Regions from separate parts of the Homo sapiens genome. Here region 1 is linked to region 2. The links come from fine-mapping of genetic effects on gene expression. A gene starts in region 2. The other region holds a variant in brackets. All regions are shown on one strand. Distances are between the middles of the regions.

What was found. PIP is the estimated chance that this variant, and not a neighbour inherited with it, causes the effect.
Region 1: its variant is fine-mapped to the expression of DHX33 in whole blood (INTERVAL, PIP above 0.99). The same link has a PIP of 0.9 or more in prefrontal cortex.

What each region holds. Positions count from the first base shown.
Region 1 is chr17:5,436,221-5,446,615 of GRCh38, forward strand. C1QBP (complement C1q binding protein) reads right to left here and starts at 2,935. Exons shown (of 6, transcript NM_001212.4): 1 at 2,622-2,935; 2 at 1,903-2,053. The coding sequence starts at 2,853. DHX33 (DEAH-box helicase 33) reads right to left here. Exons shown (of 12, transcript NM_020162.4): 12 at 4,697-8,293. The coding sequence ends at 7,985. RefSeq lists silencers at 2,602-2,651, 2,762-2,931, 2,910-3,092 and an enhancer at 3,152-3,331. The variant C/CAAAA (reference allele first, on the strand shown) is at 6,148.
Region 2 is chr17:5,463,419-5,473,813 of GRCh38, forward strand. It overlaps DHX33 (DEAH-box helicase 33), which reads right to left and starts at 5,564. Exons shown (of 12, transcript NM_020162.4): 1 at 5,153-5,564; 2 at 111-271. The coding sequence starts at 5,441. DERL2 (derlin 2) reads right to left here. Exons shown (of 7, transcript NM_016041.5): 7 at 7,836-10,395. It overlaps DHX33-DT (DHX33 divergent transcript), which reads left to right and starts at 5,674. Exons shown (of 3, transcript NR_135644.1): 1 at 5,674-5,721; 2 at 6,496-6,576; 3 at 6,674-6,942. RefSeq lists enhancers at 4,616-5,198, 4,988-5,207, 5,588-5,657.

The DNA.
Region 1 (10,395 bases), 27 kb before region 2:
TTCATCAGAGCATTATTTTTAATGGCCCCCAAATAGCTATGAAAACCTTGCGCAAATGGTGTTTAGGTGAGATTACAGAAGACACAATTGACCTGTGTAGGGCAAAAACACACTATGCAACAGGCAAGAGAATCAGGACCCTACTTCACACCATATTCAAAATGAATCACAGACCTAAACTAAGAGCTAAAACTAGAAAACTTTGAAAAAATTAAGGCATACATCTTCACAACCTTGGGTTAGGCAGTGGTTTCTTAGACGTGACACTAAAAAAGCACAAGTTGCACTTGGTGAATTAGAAGCAAAGTAAAAAATAAATAAAAAAGCACAAGCGACCAAAAAAATAGGTAAACTGAACTTCCTCAAAATTAAAAACTTTTGTGTCAGAGGACATTACCAAGAAAGTGAAAAGGAAACCCACAAGATGGGAAACAGTACTTACAAATCATTAATTTGATAAGATAGTTGTACCCAGAAAAACTTAACTTTTACAACCCAACAATTAAAAAGGTAAATAGGGTGGGCAGGGTGGCTCACACCTGAAATCCCAGCACTTTGGGAGGCCAAGGCGGGCGGATCACGAGGTCAGGACTTTGAGACCAGCCTGGCCAACACGGTGAAACCCTGTCTCTACTAAAAATACAAAAATTAACCGGACGCACGCCTGTAATCCCAGCTAAGGAGGCTGAGGCAGGAGAATTGTCAGAACCTGGGAGGCAGAGGTTGCAGTGAGCCAAGATCGCACCACTGCACTCCATCCTGGGTGACAGAGCAAGACTCCGTGGGGTTGGGGGGGGAAGCTACAAATTGTATGACTCCATTTATATGAAATGTCCAAAAGAGGCAATCCCATAGAGAAAGTAGCTTAGTGATTACCTGGGGTGGCTACAGGGAGGAATAATGAGTGACTGCTAATAGGTATTGTTTGGGGATGACAACAGTGTTCTAGAATTAGGTAGTGATAACTGATGCATAATTCTGCGAGGACTAAGAACCACTTAATTTAATAAACTTCAATAAATGGGTAAATCGTATGCCATCTCAATTAAATCTCATAAAAGCTGTGATTTAAAAAAATTACATACACATCATAAGGTCAATTATGAAGGAAATTCAATTTATTTATTTATTATTGAGATGGCGTCTTGCTCTGTTGCCCAGGCTGGAGCGCGGTGGCGCGATCTCGACTCACTGCAACCTCCACCTCCCAGGTTCAAGCGATTCCCCTGCCTCAGCCTCCCGAGTAGCTGGGACTACAGGCACGTGCCACCATACCCGGTTAATTTTTACTAGAGCCAGGGTTTTAGTGTTAGCCAGGATTTTCTCCTGACCTCATGATCTGCCCGTCCCAAAGTGCTGGGATTATGGGTGTGAGCCACCGCGCCCAGGCTCAATTTAAAAACCTGGAAGATGCCAAATGTTTATCTGTGTAATGAGATTATGGATGACTATAATGCAGAAAAGTGTAAACACTTTAACAGTTTAGGAGATGATGGGGGAGCTGACTTAGGTCACAAACTCCCCACCTCTGATGGCAGCCCTTACTACAGTGTAACCCCATCCTGTTACATAGAAGTTACATATTTTTCATTTTCACCCATACTAAACATTAGAGAGCAGTGTCCTATTTTATCAGGGCTGTAAATCAGAGATCAAACTGATTCTGCCAGTACTTTTTTGCACTACATTTTTGTCTCCTTAGTAACCAGCCCACAGCAAATTTGTGTTCGGTGAATGGACTGCCTGGGGCTTACGAAGTTGTCCAAATGAATCCTTCACTCTCTTGAAACCCATTTATCAAAGTATCCACACCTGAACTCAAGGCTCTTCTGGGGATGACCCAGGATGGGTCCTGCAAGGTTAAGGGAGTTGCTGCCCTGGGATCCCCAGACCAGTACTTACTTTTCCCCGGCAACTTTCCGCACTAATTTCGCTTCTGTCCCATTCAGTTCCAGCTCCCAACCTCCAGACATCTTAGGGAGGGTTTTATGCTTCTGAATTTTTCTTTCCTCCTTAATTTCATCACTCAGGAAATCAACAAAAGCTTTGTCTCCTAGAAAAGAAATCCAGATACATAAAAAGGAAAGCCAGTTAGTCTAAAACATAAAACTATTACCCAGGTTATTGCAGCCAGAAACCTGGACTGTTTCTAATCTCTCTGCTATTACGGTTACTCTAGAAGCCTGTTTCCTTATCGGTAAAAATACCATAATAGTAGTAGGAAGCTGAGCCTGATTCTGGAAAAGTGATTTCCAACAATGAACGCATTACCACTTTCCGCTATAAACCAGGAGAATTTCCAATCCTCTTCCACTTGCCAAACGATATAACTATGCTATTTTCAACCACGACCATGGGCCTTCCCAAAGGTCCACTTTCGATAGAATAAGACTAAGGAAAAAGGTACCCTAGTATTTAATTTTATTCACCCCCTACCAAAAGAAAACGAAACTGCTGGATAGGGGAGGTGGGGGAAATATGATCATACGTGGGTTTAGCCCGCTGGTTGCCAATCAATGGAAAAATGTCCCAGACCTCAGAGGTCGGTTGCAGGCCCTATTCCTGGTCTACGTTTTCCCTCTGTTGAACGCAAACCACACCCCCGGCCCGCTAAACCTCACCGTCGGTGTGCAGCGAGCCGCAGCCACAGCCACAGGCGCAGGGTCCGCGAGGCCGCAGGAGGCCCGGCCGCCGCTCGGAACCTGCGCGCACGCTGAGCAGCCCGAAGGGCCGGGTGCACAGCCGGGGTGCCGGCTGCAGGAGCTGCCGGAAAGGCGAGGCGGGCGCGGCAGCGCGGAGGCCGGCGACGGAGGAGCCCAGCACACGGGGCACGCAGCGCAGCAGAGGCAGCATCGCGGAAACGACTGCGAACACGTGCAGATGCAAAGGACAACCCAGGCCTAGGCGCCCCGCGACCTGAGGCGCCGCCGGAAGCCCCGCCCCTGCCCGGAAGCGCTTCCCGCGCCGGCGCTCTGACGACCTAAGGCCAGCGGGCGGAATCGCGCCCTCTGCTGGAGACTCCGGTGCAGCCCGGGAAGCCTCGAATCCGGATTCCGGAGCTTTCTTGCTGCGCTGCCGAGTCCGCTGTCCGAAGCTGTTTAATTCCCTCTAGTGGCCGCTTACCCACTTTCCACCTGCTGTTCTCAAAGCACGCAAGGCTTTTGGGCTGCGTGGAATGCACTCTTGTCTCCCGCCAGCTCTCACCAGACCCTTCCACGGTCACTTTCCTCTAGGAGGCTGTGGTGTTATGATATATATATGTATTGGTTTTCATCCACAGTTCCTGGGTCGTAACTCCTATAGCCCTTGTTACAATGTTCTGTGATAATGTTGGGTGTGTTAGGCCTCAGGAAACAGACTCTCCCCTTCTCCTGCCCTCCTTTTACCTGCCCCAAAGCAGGACTCTAATCTCCTTCCACATTTCTGATTATGGGTCTTAAGTCCCTTCCCAGAGAAGGTCCCACCATATACCCTGGGGGAAGGGATGCTGATGTCCAGAAGCTTCCATAAAAACCCAAGAGGAGAGGGTTTGCAGAGCCTCTGACAGCTGAATACGTAGAGGTTCCTGGAGGGTGGTGGCCCAGGGTAGGCAAGGAACCTCGGAGCTTCTTCCCCATTCCCCACCCTGCTCATCTCATCTGTATCCTTGGTCATATCCTTTATATGAAACCGGTGAATGTGTTTCCCTGAGTTCTGTGAACTGCTCCAGTGAGTTAACATAATCCAAAGAGGGGGGTCGTGGGAACCCCAACTTGAAGCGGGTTGGTCGGAAGTTTCAGAGGCCCAGACTTGCCATTGCTGTCTGAAGGTGGGGGCGGTCTTGGGGACTGAGCCCTCAACCTATGGGATCTGACACTATCTCCAGGTAGATACTGTTGGGATTGAATTGGAGGACACCCAGCTGGTGTCTGCTGCTTAGTGTGGAGGGGAAAAACCCAAACCTTTGGCCACATAAGTCTTCTGTGTTGATTGTTGTGTTGTGAGAGCAAAGGAAAGTCTGAGGGTTTTCCTGAAAGAGGCCTTCTAGAACCTTTTTTTCCACCGGCTCGGAACTCATGCTTGTGCGCACCCAGCCCATATGCTTCATTCTCTTTTCAACAGGAACCTCCTAGCGTTGCTGCTTTAACCAGGTTAAACCCAACCAGACTGTGACATCCTCAAGGGCAGGATCCATGATTAATTTTTGTGACCTTCCCTCTCTGCACCTCCAACCTTGCATCCAAGTTCTAATGGAACATCATTTTTCTGGGGACAAGAAGCCAGCTTATATCATTTAGATAAGTCCAGAGGCTTCCATAAAAACCCGAGGACAGGGTTTGGAGAGCCTCTGATAGCTAAATACATGGAGGTTCCTGGAGGGTGGTGGTCCAGGGACGGCATGGAGGCTGGGAGCTTCTTCCCCATTCCCCACCCTGCTCATCTCCTTATCTGTATCCTTGGTCATATCTTTTGTATGAAACCGGTAAATGTGTTTCCCTGAGTTCTGTGAGTTTCTCCAGTAAATTAATATAACCCAAAGACAGGGTTCAGATTTATTAAAAATCAACAATCCTACCTTCCCAGGATATACAGGACATATAAGCTACTAAGAAGGTATGTCTTACTAACTCATGGTAAGACTAACACTTAATATTTTCTAAATAATTTTCTATGAATAATGGAAAAGAGATGCAAGAAACAAGCCACACACATCATATACAAGATTCATTTTTAATGGATTTGATCGTCGGGTGCAAATTTGAGCATTATTTACAAGAGCTTTCTGTAGAGTTATTTCTGTTCAAATAAAACCAGACTCTCAAAATACAACATAAGCCTGAACCTACTTGATTTTTTTTTCTCCCTCTAGTTACCAAGGAATATCGTATCTCAGATGCATGGCCTACTATCACACTGGTCTTTAAAGAAAAAAAAAAATGCATGGCCACAGTTCCAGGCAGTTCCTGGTAGCTGGATTTAGTGGATTTATATATGACAGTACAGTACATCATCAGTTTCACCCACAGGGCAGAACTTGCCTCCATTCAGGCATCTCTTTACAACTGGCAGCAATGCAGCATTAAGGGTTTTTAGCCAGGACCTGCTGTTTGCAGTCCTGCCCCTTGTAGTGTTACTCTGGGTGTTGCACACTCCATGATTACTAGAAGACAAACACCTGAGGCATGCAATCTGCTTGGAGTGCATCTATTTACATGAAGCTGCTCACGGGAGCTGGTGATTCTTCCAGATATGGGTTTCGTAGGTTGGCAAAGAGTTATCACACCATCAGAGATTTTACCAATGGAAAGAGAGTAGCTGAAGATTATATTGCAATGTTATTGTGAAACATTTAACTTTCTTAAGTTTAAAGTGTACTATCTCCTGCAGCTCAATATAAACAACGATGTATTTCTTTGTAGCAGTATGTGGAGTCAGAATGGGTTTTCCAATCTGATTTAATCCCTGAGCAGCTATGTTAAAAGTTAACTTTTTAAAAAAGCCCAATAAAAAACTAAATACTGTATTAAAACTCTACCACAATGTTACAGGGATAAACTTATTTCTGTACAGAAACATTAAAGCTACTTAGAAGCTGTTTACATCCTTTGCCTCTCAGAAAAAAAATATACATTTCCGGAAACTGTTCAGGTACTTAAGCTGGACATAAATTACCCCAAGTTTTTTCTTTTTCTTTCTTTCTTTCTTTTTTTTTCTGAGACCGTCTCACACTGTCGGCCAGGCTGGAATGCAGTGGCGTGATCTTGGCTCACTACAAACTCTGCCTCCCAAGTTCAAGCAATTCTTGTGCCTCAGCCTCCCCGGTAGCTGGGATTACAGGCGTGTGCCACCATGCCCAGCTAAGTTTTCTATTTTTAGTAGAGACGGGGTTTTGCCATGTTGGCCAGGCTGGTCTTGAACTTCTCAAGCAATCCACCCACCTCAGCCTCCCATCCCAATGCTGGGATTACAGGCATGAGGTGATCCGCCCGCCTTGGCCTCCCAAAGTGCTGGGATTACAGGTGTGAGCCACTGCGCCCGGCCACCCCCCAATTTTTTTTTTTTTTTTTTTTTTTTTACCAGCACTATGAATGATTAAAAATACAATATTTTTCTTACTAAGTAGGACTAAACATTCTAATCCCCTACTGGAAAACAAAAAACAAAAAA[C/CAAAA]AAAAACTGGAAAACTTTTCAGAAAGTCAGCAGTGGTAACAAGTCAGTAAGTGGAAGAACTGGTTCAAAGTTTAAGAATTCAGTAAGATAAGGTATATAGGAGCTGTCAGATCTTCTTTTGCCCACGTATAACCATTTCTGACAGACAGCCCTAAACACTAGCTGAGAGCTTGACTGCACAGGACCACGGCTAGTGTTGGAAATAAAGACTGAGCCGGACTTGACATACACAACTCCGGACAGATGGGACCCTGGAATGGGGCTGCTCCATCAGGCCACAGCTTCCAGAAAGAGAGCATCCATGATCTCTGAAGAGCCTCTTGGGCAGCTTGGCCCCTGGTTATAACTATGATTCATTCATTAAGAAATGACAAAACACCCCACAGATGTATTTGGACCAAGTAAGCACAATAAAAGAGCTAAATCACGGCTTCTTCTAGGGCAAAATATTATCTGGGGAAAGATTACTTGCTTCTGATAATTAAATAGCTAAGAGGAACCGTTAGTGCCTTTTCTCTGCTCAGAATATCAGAACAGGAACAGACTGTGGATATCCTCCAATTCCCTCTGACAATGAGGGTTAGAGAGAGGTGCCTAGCAGTTAGAAAGCAGCAAAGCCAGATTGTCCCAAGTCCCTACGAAGAAGGAAAAAATATCATAGAAAATTAATAAGATGCAAGAATAAGTGTTACAGCTCTAGCTCTTTTAGAATTTGTCCAGCAGGTCTTCTAGACTTCACTGAACTGCCCCCCACCCCCCCCGCCCACACACCAAAAAAGATACAAGAATGTAAGCCCAGATGTGGTGTGGTATCTGGCATAAGCCAATGTTCTCTGGGTTCTAGGTACCCCTCTCCCCTCCCCCACCCCCACCCCCTCTGACCAGGGGACTGCCCGAAAAGAAACAGCTGAAATGGTACACAGTCACTCCTCATGCCCGCATGTTCACTGGTGCCCAGTTAGAGAGAAAAATGGCAACTGTGTATGTGGGAGTCACCTACACACACAAAACACTGATAGGTCAGTTTCCCATGTCTACACGTGACAGGATTCAGAAGGTACAAATCAACCTTCACCCAGGAAGCTTACATGTCTCCTGAAAGCACTGACAGGGTCACGCACTGAGGACCAGGAGGCTCCTTTACTGGTCTCTGCTTGGAGACAGACACAGAGTGGTCCACCCTGAGACACAAGCGTTCAGTAGGGATCGCCATCCCAGGAGGTACGAGATAACAGCACCTCCCTCTGGAAACTTCTACAGAAGTCAGTTTTGTTTTCTATTTTAAAACTGCATTCAGAGAGACATTAAACAAGAACTAAGGGCAACATCCAAGCTCCGCAACCTCCTGTGGCCCTTCCAGAAAATCTCCCTCAGTCACAAGAACTTGGGATATTGCTGTACTTCACATCATATGGCAAGCAGTAACATTCAGCCTAACGGCTCCCAACTCACTGTACGTGTGTCGTGCGTGCTCCAGGCATAGTTCTGGGTACTTTCCATTCCTTTTCTCTAAACTTTATGAACCCAATTTTATAAGGATTATTATTATTACTCCCATTTGGCAGATGAGAAAACTGAGGCTCAGGTGTTAAATTAAGTCAAAGTCACCCAGTAAGAACCAAAAGCATAATTTTGAGGTTTCCAGGTACAAATGATATGTCCATGTCTATATGGTTCAGTCCCAGGAGTTGAGCAAAGATGCTTTCACGCTCCTGGAAGTCAGGCACCTTCAGCTGATTCCAAGGCTTCTCTAAGCGCCAACCTGGAAGCCTGCTGTAAGGACAACTGTAGTCCAAGCTCCCAGGGACCAGTGATTCTGGCGGCATCCTGGGGCGGCTCAGTTTCTGGCGGTTCTCAGCTTCCTCCTAAAGTACTCAGGGGCAGCCTCGTACAGCCACTGTGCATCTATGACGCAGAGGTCCCGCATGTAGCACTTGTTGGTGTAGAGCAGCTCAGTGTACACGACGCAGGCCGGCTTGCAGTGGAAGAGGACAGACGACGGGTGGATGGCCACTGGCTGGTGGGTGTCCGTGGTGGCATAGGTGCCATCTGGCTGAAGCTCGGCGGTGCTCATGAAGAGGCTGTGAGCCAGGCAGCGGCGGACACTCTCCACGTCTCCTCGGGATGATGCGATTGGCATTGACATCTGTTTCGGGAGAAAGCGAGGAATGGAGCCGACCCCACACGTAAACACTGGTCAGCACTACACAGCGTGTTGGGGCAACTGGACCCACTGGGGCAAAAGCAGCCCACATTGTGAGCCTAACGATGTGGATTCTGACATTCGGAGGTGGTCACCAAGGATCAGCAAGGTCAGGGGAAGAAGGCCCAGCTGGAGGAGCACGGACCAGAAACAGGGAAACTACCGCCTGTGAAGGTAGGGCTGGGAGGGAGGTGCTCACATTAGCCACCAGACCACAGGCAGGTTGGGTGACCCACCCCTCACCTAAATTCCATCAGGACGGCCCGGAAAGGAAAGGCCCTTCCCTCTCGCTTTGACCATCTCACCATCTCCTCACTCCGATTCACCCACCTGCTGCTGCCAAGCTAATCTACCTAAAGCACAACTCGAATCACTCTTCATCCACTCAAATACCTTCAACAATGTCTCTACTGCTCCTTGCAAAACAATGCAAACTTCCCGTGGTGAAGCCACGAAGGAGCCACCCTGAGCTGCTCGCCTGTCTTTCCTCTCACCGCTCTTTTTCTTTCTTTCTTTTTTTTTTTTTGAGGCTGAGTCTCCCTCTGTCACCCAGGCTGGAGTGCAATGGCGCAATCTCAGCTCATTGCAACCTCCACCTCCCAGGTTCAAGCTATTCTCCTGCCCTAGCCTCCCAAGTAGCTGGGATTACAGGCGCCTGCCACCACGCCTGGCTAATTTTTGTATTTTTAGTAGAAACGGGGTTTCACCATTTTGGTCAGGCTGGTCTTGAACTCCTGACCTCAAGTGATCTGCCCGCCTTGGCCTCCCAAAGTGCTGGGATTACAGGCGTGAGCCACCGCGCCCGGCCTCACCACTCTTCTTTAGACACTCCATGGTCCCCCATAGCTGGCTGCCTTCTCTTTCCTCGCCCCGTTTCATGATTCCTATCTGTGCCTTCACATTTGCTACTCTTAGTAGAAATGCTGCCTGTCTCATCAGAGGAAATGTCAGTCACCAGTCAATGTCCTTGTTCTACTGCTCTTGATGAGTGGGGCATGTAACCTACGCCCCTGGGCACAGATGAACAAACCAGTGGTACACACACGCTGGACCTAAGCTGGCCAGCTTTTCTCTTCCAGGCATCTTTTAGGTTTGAAACTGGAAAACTTGTCAATCTCTGCTGGGCTCTTGAGTGGAGGGGCCATGCAGAGAAATCACTTCCATGCGGAGGTAAAGGTGAGAAAAGGGAAGGAGGCACGCAGAGGGCACTCAAAGCAAGAGAAGCAGCAGGTCCAGAGAAAGTGGCGGGCCTGGCTCCTGCAGGCTTTTTCTGGTTCCTGTGACTCTATTTCCTGCCTATCGGTTCTCAGAGATACCTTTCCATCCTTGGAAGAATCTTTATTTTGTCCTTTATGATGGCTCTAGGGTTTCTGTTGTTGACAATCAGCTGATCTATGCCTGAAGAAGATACTTTTTTTTAAGAGACAGGGTCTCACTCTGTTGCCCAGGCTGGAGTGCAGTGGCACAATCCCAGCTCGCTGGCAACCTCTGCCTCCTGGGTTCAAGCGATTTTTGTGCCTCAGCCTCCTGAGTAGCTGGGGTTATAGGCATGCACCACCACGCTCAGCTTAGTTTTGTATTTTTAGCAGAGATGGGGTTTCACCATGTTGGTCAGGCTGATTTCGAACTCTTGGCCTCAAGCAATCCACCTGCTTGGGCCTCCCAAAGTGCTGGGACTAGAGGCATAAGCCAGCCACCACACCTGGCCTGGAAGATACTCTTTTATCTCCTTATCTGTCAAGATCTAGCTCAGTTGTCACCACCTCCAAGAAGCCCCAGAGGCTAACTGGTGGTCTCTCCTTCCAGACTATCAGCTTTACCACTCACTGGCTGAGTGATTTGGGGCAAATTATTTAACCTGATTAGGCTTAGTTTCATCATTTGTAAAATGGGAATAACAAAAGAATCAATCTTATAGGTTGAAATGAGGATTTTATCCTTTGGGTTAAGGTCTGAGTTGAAAAAGAAAAAAAAAGAAATGAGGAGTTTAAATAAGGCAGCCACATAAAAAGTACTCAGAACAGTGCTGAACAAACACTTCATGA
Region 2 (10,395 bases):
AAGCAGCTCACTATGTAAAAGGAGTCTTGTTTAGAAAAATAAAAGGCAGTGGGCATGGGGAGAGAGCTGTTGAGTCAAGAAGTACTAATAGTCAAGAAGGAACCAGGTACCAGCTTCCCAAGTTCAGTTCTCTTCTCATCTGAGACTCTAGTAGCAAGAGAGATGGCAGCTACTCGACGAGGCTGGGTCACAGCAATGATGCCCTGGCGGCTGATCCCTCCTTCATACAGGTACTGAGGGATCTGAGTTGTCTTCCCAGAGCCAGTTTCCCCTAGGAGAGAGGGGGAAAAAAAAAAAAGGCTCACTGAAATGCAAACTGGGGCTCGGCACCAGGGCTGGCACCTATAATCTCAGCACTTTGGGAGGCCGAGGTAGGAGGCTCTCTTGAGCCCAGGAGTTCAAAATCAGCCTGGGCAACATAGCAAGACCCCGTCTCAACAACAACAACAATTAGCCTGGTGTGGTTGCATGTGCCTGTAGTCCCAGCTACTAGGGAGGCTGAGACAGAAGGATCATGAGGCCCAGGAGTTCAAGGTTACAGTAAGCCATGATTGTGCCACTGCATGCCAGCCTGGGAGATAGTGTGAGACACTGTCTCAAAAAAAATAATAAAAATAAAAAAAGAAATGCAAATCGGCTGGGCACAGTGGCTCATGCCTGTAATCCTAGCACGTGGGGAGGCCAAGGGAGGAGGATCACTTGAGCCCAGGAGTTGCTCCTGGGCAACATAGGGAGATGCCGTCTCTACAAAAAATACAAACATTAGTTGGACGTGGTGGTGCACGCCTGTGGTCCCAGCTACTCTGAAGGCTGAGGTGGGCATATTGCTTGAGCCTGAGAGGTTGAGGCTGCAGTGAGCCATGATCACACCACTACACTCCAGCATGGGCAACGGAATGACACCCTGTCTTAGAAAAACAACAACAACAAAAAGCAAATTGACATAAATTTCACCAAACAAACAGCTCAAAGTCAGAAGTAAAAGATAAAATACCCTGTGTTGGTAAAGCCTCAGGAGAATGGGCATTCAGGTATGTATACTGCTGGTGAAATTAGCTGGTTAATTGGTATTGTTTCTCAGGTGGTCAAATTATGTTTTTTAAATCTTTAAAATGTTTATATCCCTTGACCCACAATTCTACTTGCAGAAATTGATTCTAACAAAATAAGTAAACATGTGTATAAAGATACAGCTTCAAAGAGATTTTATTCAATTTTGCTCCTGACAGAAAAAAATTGGAAACAATATAAATGTTCAAAAGGTAATTTACATAGTTAAAATATAAAATAAAATACAACCGTTACATAGATTTCTGCATACTGACTGACATGAAGAGACATCCATTCATGCACTGCTGCCTTCAACTCCTGGCCACTCCCCAGCCTGCTGCCTCCCTTCAAACCCTCTGCCTCTGCCCACACTATGGGCAGAACACCTGCCCTCACACTGCCTGCCTCGCAAACTCTAAGATGAGTTAGGCCTCAAACACGCTCCCCTGGCTGCACAGTGGCCCTCCTCTGGGCTCCGTAGTGCCTTGTTCATCTCTCTTCCAGCACTGACCATCCTGTGTTGTACAGAAGCGTTTAAATGTGTCCGTCCTCCTCCAACACCAGAAGGGAAGCTCCCAGAGGGCAGTGCTCTGAATGTCCCTCTCGTGTACTTGAGTATTTTGCATACAATAAGCACGCAGTAAATGTTACTTCCTACCCTGTGTGAATTCCTTTAACAGTGCCTGATTAGAGCAAAGAACTCAGTAAACCTGCGCTTCCTTCCCCTCCCTCTAGCTACCACCAGGCCTCTCTGACTTCAAAAAGTCCTCCAGTCCCATGATTTGTGGGTTTTTTTCCCTGTCAGTCTGTCAGCCCCCTCTGACTGCTCATCCTTCCTGACCCAGATAAGAATCAGACAAAGGATTTGATTATTCTGCAATCTTCCTGCTGAATCCACTAGGCAAAACCCCAAACTTTGATCCATGTCTCTATCTTTCATGCTCCTATACCAGGGCAACAGAGCGTTGCTAAAGTAAAATACAAAATGCTTGGAACCAGAAGTGTTTTGAACTTTGGATTCTTTCAAGTTTTGTAATATTTGCATTATACTTACTGGCTGAGCATTTTAAATGTGAAAATCTGAAGTCCTAAATGCTCCCAAATCCAAAACTTTTTGAGCATCTGATATGACACTCAAAGGAAATGCTCCTTGGAGCCCATTCTTGACTTCGGATTTTCAAATTTGGGATGTTCCACCTATAATCTGGCTGTGCAGAAGCAAACCTGAGTTTATAGTGTAGCCGAAATGCACCTAGGCACCACTACTGCCATCGATCTTTTTTCTTGTTTTTGCAGCCTGTCTCGTCTCCATCCTCCCCAAGGGCCCACTTGAAGCCCAGTGACTCCCATTCTGAGCAGGGCTCCTGAACCTGTCTCACAGAAGTGGGGTTCTAAAATGTGGTCTCTCCCTAACTGCCCCTAGAAGCCCTTCTGCAGTGCACCATCCTTACATCCGTTCTCTAGCCCTGCAGCCTCTTAGCCTTCCTCCTCTTCCAGACCAGCCCTGCATCTAGCCCTTGTGGCCAAGTTCCCCCGTCCCCCATGCCTCCTGATCTTTGCTCTGTTAGCTCGATTCTATCTTCTGCCTCCCTCCCTACTGAGTTCTTCCCCTCAACCTCTGAATACAGATGGTCCCTGTCTTAGAACTGTTTGACTTCAGGATGGAGCAAAAGTCAAAATCGTACAGTAGAAACTGTACTTTTGAGTACCCACACAACTGTCACTTTCAGTATGGTATTCAATAAATTGCATGAAATATTCAAGACTTTATTATAAAATAGGTTTCATGTTAGATAATATCACCCAACCATAGGCTAATGTACATGTTCCGAGCACACTGAAAGTAGGCTGGGCATATTAAATGCATTTCCAACTTAGGATATTTTCAACTTATGAGGATGGGTGGATTCATCCACACATAACCCCATCCTAAATCGAGCAGCATCCATAAAGTTTCTCTCAGCTTCCCTCCTTTTTCCTCAAAACAGAAGCCTCTTCCCCCTGCTTTCAGCCCTCAGCTCAATGACAAATCAGCTGTTACCCACACAGCTTTGTTGAAATAGCTCTCGATGGGATGGATCCACGATCAATAGTGTCAGAGATAGTCTGTGAAAGTCATGAAAAATTTTATGAGAGGAAATGTATGCAAGAAATGTTTTACAATTTAAAAGTGATTAGGCCTCCTGAATGCTTTATAAAATGTCACCATAACTCTTAGCTGTAGAACTTGCCTGCTTTGCAGCTAGGTAAAACCTAGGACACATGGAGCTAAATGCTGAAATAAGCCAGACCTTAACTGCACTTCTGTCTAAGTCCTAGGCTGTACACCTAGCACATAATTAAAATCCCGAACTTACCAAGGTTTTCAACAAAGGTAAAGGTTGCTAAAAGTTAACAGTGTAACATGTATTTAAAACTATTGAAGAGACACTTTATGTGCAAGGTGTGTAAGGAAAGTAAAGTACACTTTCGGTAAAAAGATTATCAGGAGGGATAAGAATGCACATTTTTACCTACGTTAAAAGGTTAAATAATTGTTTTGAGGGGGCCAGGTGCGGTGGCTCACGCCTCTTTCTATATCAACCAATCGGGCCTAGTAAAAAGCGCTGCTAAAAAACGTAAAGAAAAGGCTAAAAAGCTAAGGGAGTACCAAAACCACCAAATGGACTCTTGGTTTGAAAACAAAATCATAGCATGGGTCATCCCATTCCTGGGCCCTCTCCTAATAATATGCCTGGAACTAATGTTCTTACCCTGCCTAATTAATCTTTTTCAAAGATTTTTAACTGACAGGATCATGGCAATTTCACAAACAACTACCCAAAAACATCTACAGACGGCATTGCTCCTAGTCAACCCGAGACCAGGAAACTCTCCATCCCCTCGTTGCAGGAAGTAGCCAGAAAGAACATGCCGTCCCTCCTCCTTTTTATAACTATAGGGTCTGGATTGACAAAGCAGGAACATCACCATCTTGGACAAGCCCCTCATTCAAAAGTTCACCTTAATAAAAAACCGCCTAAATCCAAAAGGTATCAGCCTAATGGCTAAGGTCAGCACGACCATAAACCACAAATAACATCTCCAGCCAGAAACATTCCAAACTCCTCCCCGACCAGAGACATGTTAAGGGATAACCCCACTCTGGCCGGGAATATGCCAGCCGGGAATATGCCAGCCGGGAGATAAACCCCCTCGGGCCGGAAAAATGTCTGCCCCAAGATAACATCCCCTGCTCCCAAAGAGTCCAACCCTGCCAAAAACTTCTCCACACATATAAACATTCCAAGCTTGTGATAAGCCCCCTCACCCTAACACCAATATATACTCTTAGTCTGTAAGAGAAAGGGCTCCTGACCGAAATCGGCCAGGAGCGCCTCTCAGGTTTTAACTAAAGAAAAGCTGTCTTTAACTGCCAGCCGCGTTTCGTGTTTCTTTCCTTTTTCTTTAACTCTTACAAATAGCTCACATCCAAATCCAGTGGGCATCACATCCAAGTCCAGTATAACCGGACTTGACTGCTGCATCTGCTCACTCTCTATTCCTTTGACTAGCAGCACTCATGGGTCTCCTTCCTCTCTTTGGCTGCTCATCCTTTCCGTCCTTCAGTATCTCCTCTAACACGTTGGGGATCATAAGCCCCATGAAATCAGTCCCTGCCCCACAACTCTGCCTCTTTTCATGCACCAGAAACTACACCTTCCCTTTCGACCGGAATGTGTTCAGGTTCCCATCTCTCAAACGGGCTTTCCCCCCTGCCTAGAATGCCCTCCCTCCCACACGACCTCCCCAGCCGCCTCCTCACAAACCGGGTCAGATCCACTCTTCTAAGATCCGCAAGCCCCCGGTACGTTTCTCTACCCTTTTACGCGGAAGGTGAGTCTTTGCCTACACACGTTGGTCACTCTCACCGGGCTGTCCAGCGCCTCCAGGGCAGGGCTGCCGGACTCTTCTTCGAGGCCCCTCTCCAGGTCTGGCCCAGAAAAGGTATTCAGGTTTGTTGAAGCCACGAACGAAAGGGATTGAGAGGCATGTAAGAAAAACTGCTCTAGCTAAGCCACGGACGAAGTGCAAGGAAGAGCCCGCCGGCGCGGCCACTCACCGATGAGGACCGCGTTGTCCAGGTTTCGGAGCTGGGCCAACAGTTGCCCCCGCGCTTGGAAGATGGGCAGACTCCGGCGCTGCAGCTCCACAGCTTCAGGGTAGGGACTGGCCGAGGGCTGGGCCAGGGGCGGCTGCTGCCTCCGGCCTCCTCCTCCTCCTCTGCCGCCGCTGCCCGCAGTCAGCAGCATCACCACTTGCCTCCCGGGAGGGAAGGACCCAGCGCGGCTCGGAGGTCCAGAGCCTGGCCGGAATCTCTTGGCCGGCGGGAAGCCCGCCTCCTCCGGCATGTCGGGAGGGCACCGCGGCGGGAGGCGCAAGCGCCGAGAGCTCCTGCCCCCTCTCAGGTGCAGACAACAGGAGCACACCGCCCCTTCCTCGCCGCCACGTGCTGGCGGCTCCCGGCGACCACCGATGACCTCACGGCCGCCCCAGTCTTTAGAAAAAGGGACTGCATCTCCCAGCATGCCTTGGGGGCTTGGGAAGGCTTTCACTTCCTGGGGGTGGGAAAAGCAGGGCCTGAGGTACAACCAGGAAAAGGCCCGGAGCTACAACCGGGAAACACAGGATGTAAGGTTCCGTGGGACTGTAGTCTTGGTTAACGAGGTTTTTCTCATTGTTTTATTTTTTTTTTTTGAGATGGAGTTTCGCTCTTGTTGCCCAGGCTGGAGTGCAATGGCGCGATCTCGGCTCACACTGCAACCTCCGCCTCCTGGGTTCAAGCGATTCTCCTGCCTCAGCCTCCCAAGTAGCTGGGGTTACAGGCGTGCGCCACCGGGGCCCGTCTAATTTTGTATTTTTAGTAGAGACAGGGTTTCTCCATGTTGGTCAGGCTGGTCTTGAACTCCCGACCTCAGGTGATCCGCCTGCCTCGGCCTCCCAAAGTGCTGGGATTATAGGCGTGAGCCACCGCGCCCCGCCCATTGTTTTGTTCTAGTAGCATTACTTCTTTTCAGTAAACCCGCGTTTTCCCCTTCTCTGTCCAAATAACAGTCACTCTTCAAGGAAAGTACTTAATTCTGTAAAATCAATGAGAAGCGCAAACGTGCATTGTCTAATCCTCTAAACAACTTATAAGTTATGTGGTATATACTGGTTATTAGATTATCTCTAATTTACAGATTAAGAAATTGAGTCATCTTAGTCATTCAGATGTCCCCAAATCATAATTTTGTGATCATCTTGTGTTACAGAAAGGAAAACCAATTCTGATATACATGAATTTAACTCAGAAAATGACTCCTCCAACGGATGTGGTCGCCTCCAGTAATACAAGCAGAGAAAGGAGGGAGTTCAATGAAATTAAAATTGTCTTTTATCTTTCCTTTCCCCCAACCATTCCAGCCAGACTCTCAAGTTCTCTACATGGCTGTGCAACCCCATCACAGACACTTCAGTGAAGATTCAGAACTGCAGCAGAAAAAAGTAGGATTATAACTAGTTCTTCCTTACCCTCCTAAAAGTTCTTAGATGATTTGCTAATTTACCACGGAGAATGCCAAGTAGCTGTTTGCTCTTACAGGAAATGTGATTTCCAGAGAATACACCGTAAGCTTCAGCTCATGTGAAGGGTATCTTCTGAAGCTCGTTTCCATGAAACTCGCCCTGTTAAATATCTCCCTTCCCGTGATTCGTGAGAGAGCTAGTCTAAAAACAAAAAACCTCCCCTTTGCTCCAGGTCGGAGATAATTTTCCTCTAGTTGCTGACAGTTTGGTGACCAGGCATTACTGAAAATGTGCACGTTGAACCAGCAGCAGATTTGTGTTTAAGAATAAACTGACAAATTTTCACTTCCTACCCTGAAATATTTAGAAAGGCAACCCAAAACTACAAGGGATAATAAATGTTAACTCTCAAATTATGGACTTTGAGTAAAGACATCCCAGTCCTTTTTCCCAGTGTGCTTTCCAGAGTAACTTAAGGTAGGAGTCCGATGTTCCAAATGATTACAATAATTTAGGTAATGTAAATGGGTGGACTTATTTCTTGATGGAGCACATTCCACCTCTACATGCAGCCCCTAATCATTTCTAGGCAATGGCTGTCATGTAGACCTATTATTGCCAGATCTTCCAATTTTCTCAAGAAAAGCCAAAAGTGAAGATTTTTATCTGTCAATGTTAAATACAGGTTTAAACTTAAAAAAAAAAAAAGTACTGTCAAAACAAAGCACATAGGTAGGTAACAAATCTGTAGGTAACTCATCCATAATCTCTGGCCTAATGATCCAGCTATTCTATAGCCTCAAAGCTAAGAGGACCAAAGAGTGGAAAAATTAAGTCCTATATATGCATCAAGCCATGCTGCTCACATTTCTCCCATTGGTAGACTGAAATCTGCTGTTTCTCCTGAAGAAGTCTCTTGGGGTTCACCAGCTTTCATATGTAGATACTGACAAGCTAATAACTATTCAGAGAATATCCTGGTTCTTCCTTCAAACGACGAAGTGTCAGACACATTTCATTTTTAACTTGTCTGGGATGGTCTGTGGACTTAACTGGTCTGATCACGACCATAACAGCTGGTGGTCACCTTTGCTTTTCCGACCACCAAATTACTGCCCTTGATCATGTTCAGTTTCCCTCTATCCCACTTTCAGAGACAACCACAAGCTTCAGCAACTAGGCTCAAGCTTGCATGCATACACTTTAATCCCTCTATAATTAAAAATACCAGATAATACTTTGCTGATCAATAAACAAAGGTATTTATTCAGCACCCATGTGCCAAGCACTGTGCTAGGCACTGTGGTGGATACAAAAATTAAGACATGGTCCCTGCCCTTAAGGAGCTTACATTCTCATGAGGGAGACAAGACTAATATACATGTACCAGCTAGGAACAGTACAAGACAATATATAATTTGGCGTTAAGAATGTCATACAGACTTGAAGCTTTATAGGGATTCAGAGACAGACAATAAAATAGGCCTTAGAGTCAAGATTTTTTGAGGAATCAGGAACAAGGCCAGGCCTTGAAGAACTGAAGAGACTTAAGTTGAGGTCCCTGTTAGGTAGAAGTGGGAGTAAAGTTAAGAAAAAAACAAGTATGCATATAATGTAGGGGCTTACTAAGAAGTCACTGTGGATTTCTGAGCAGAGGAGTGACTTGATCATACAAGATTCAACAATTTTATTGCAAACTCATAAAATATGTTTAAGTAGCCTGGAGACATCCTACAGAACACAGAAAATAATGGCAGGATCATGACTAACAACATAGCTGGAACTCACCTGTCAAAGAAAAACAGCTACAACATAAAACACTGGCAGGATAGATGACAATAGTTCTAGGAAGCCCATTACTCAACATGGCAATAGCTCCAATGCTTCCTTATTTTCAGAGGCCCCAGAGACTGAGGGTTTCATTATCCAGACCCAGGACTTAGGTGTTCTGCTTCTAGAGACTACACAAGAGGTATGAAAGATATGAGGACATACAAGAGTGACACAGAAAAAACAAGAGGAAGAGAGAAACAAATAGAAATCCATACTGGAAAAAAACGCACCGAAATGTATATAAAATGTATCTCCTAAGGAGATGCAATTTGTATGTCCATTTATTTTTAAATGAACGTATACCGTATTTCCATAACAAACAAAAAACACTATGCTTTAGTCAAGTGTGCTTTTCAGTATCACTAGAAGAATCCAGGAATCCCTCAAATTATGTGTAAGGTTAGTTGGTTGGTCTCAAAATTCCATGTATCAAATCTCACTTTCAGTTTATTTGCATTGTGAAAGGGAAGTGTGTTCTGGAAGAACTAAGATTGAGAGGTAAATTGGGGAGAAAGTAAGGACTTTTCCTTATGTCCATTCAAGCACAGGTATCCTGTCAAGCAACACAGGGCTAGGAATGGTGGTTGTAGGGCTGGCCAAACTGATGAGAGGTGATTGAAATTACCACTGCTCAGGACACAGTGTAGTCAGTCACACAGCAGGGCATCCTGCCACTGGGAACTTGCACCCTATAAAATCGGAGAAATCAAAAACCCTGTAACTGCCTGCCTTTAGGCTGTATATTCAAAATGTATTTCCTGTTTTACCTAGTCATTAATGTATACAGATATTCCCTACTTAAATGAACAGTGAGTTAACAGATTTTAGGATTAGTATTTTACCACAAAAATGCCATTCATTGCATAACTCCAACTCAGGGAGAACAAATAAAACTAGAGAAACTCATTTCTAGCCCAAAAACAATTTAAAAAAAAAAAACAAAAAACAAAATTCTAACAAACGTCACTGATAAAGCGTTCTTGAGCAAAAACAAGATAGGATAAAACTTAAGAATCCCATAAGGATTATACATGCTAAGATTGGCTTTTAAACTTTGAAAACCTTTTTTAAACTGCTTAAAAAGCAGTCCCATAGACCCAGGTTCCATAAAATTGCAACAATCATATTCAAAGTTATTAGCAACATGTAAAATACTTAAATACCATTAGTTATGCAATTCCATTTAAAGACATTAAAACACTTTTCACTTCAAAAACAATCTGAAAATTCCTATTTAGGATGTCCATTATGTTTAAGCCTATGTCTATCTTTCTGAGGACAATGTCACATTCTGGAAAGCTACCCCTTAACAAAGGTTGAATGAACTACTACTAACAATCCACTTTTGGGAAAGGGACCTGTGCCTACATGCCGTTAATGAAAGCTGTTTGGAATCATCTCTTTCCTAGGGGTGCTCTTTCGACTCTTCCAGGTTCTGGAAGTTACTTAAGCAGTGTGAATGCAAACCTGCTGAGACTCAGGGAAGACTTAATATTTAGGGGAAGTATTTATTGAACCACAGCATTAAGTGTCTACTTCTGTGGACCCTGTCTAATTTCTACCTGATTGGGAAGGTAATCCAGGTACTTGGCTCTGAAAAGGTTCTTGAATTTTCACGAAGCAAATGACTAATGTTAACTAGCCAAAGACCCTGGAAGAACATATGCCTAGCTAACTGGTATCTGTTCGTCTGGCTCCAAAGTCAACATTCTAACTTGGTTTCCAAATCTAATGAAAATCTGAGACCCTGTCTCTATTTTTTTTTTTTAATTAAAAAAACAAAAAACAAAACAAAACAAAAAAGGCAAAAAAAAAAAAAATGGCTGGGCATGGTGGCTCATGCCTGTCATCCTAGCACTTTGGGAGGCTGAGGTGGGAGGATTGCTTGAGTCCAGGAGTTCAAGACCAGCCTGGGCAACACAGTGAGACCCCATCTGTATTTAAAAAAAAATTTTTAATTAAAAC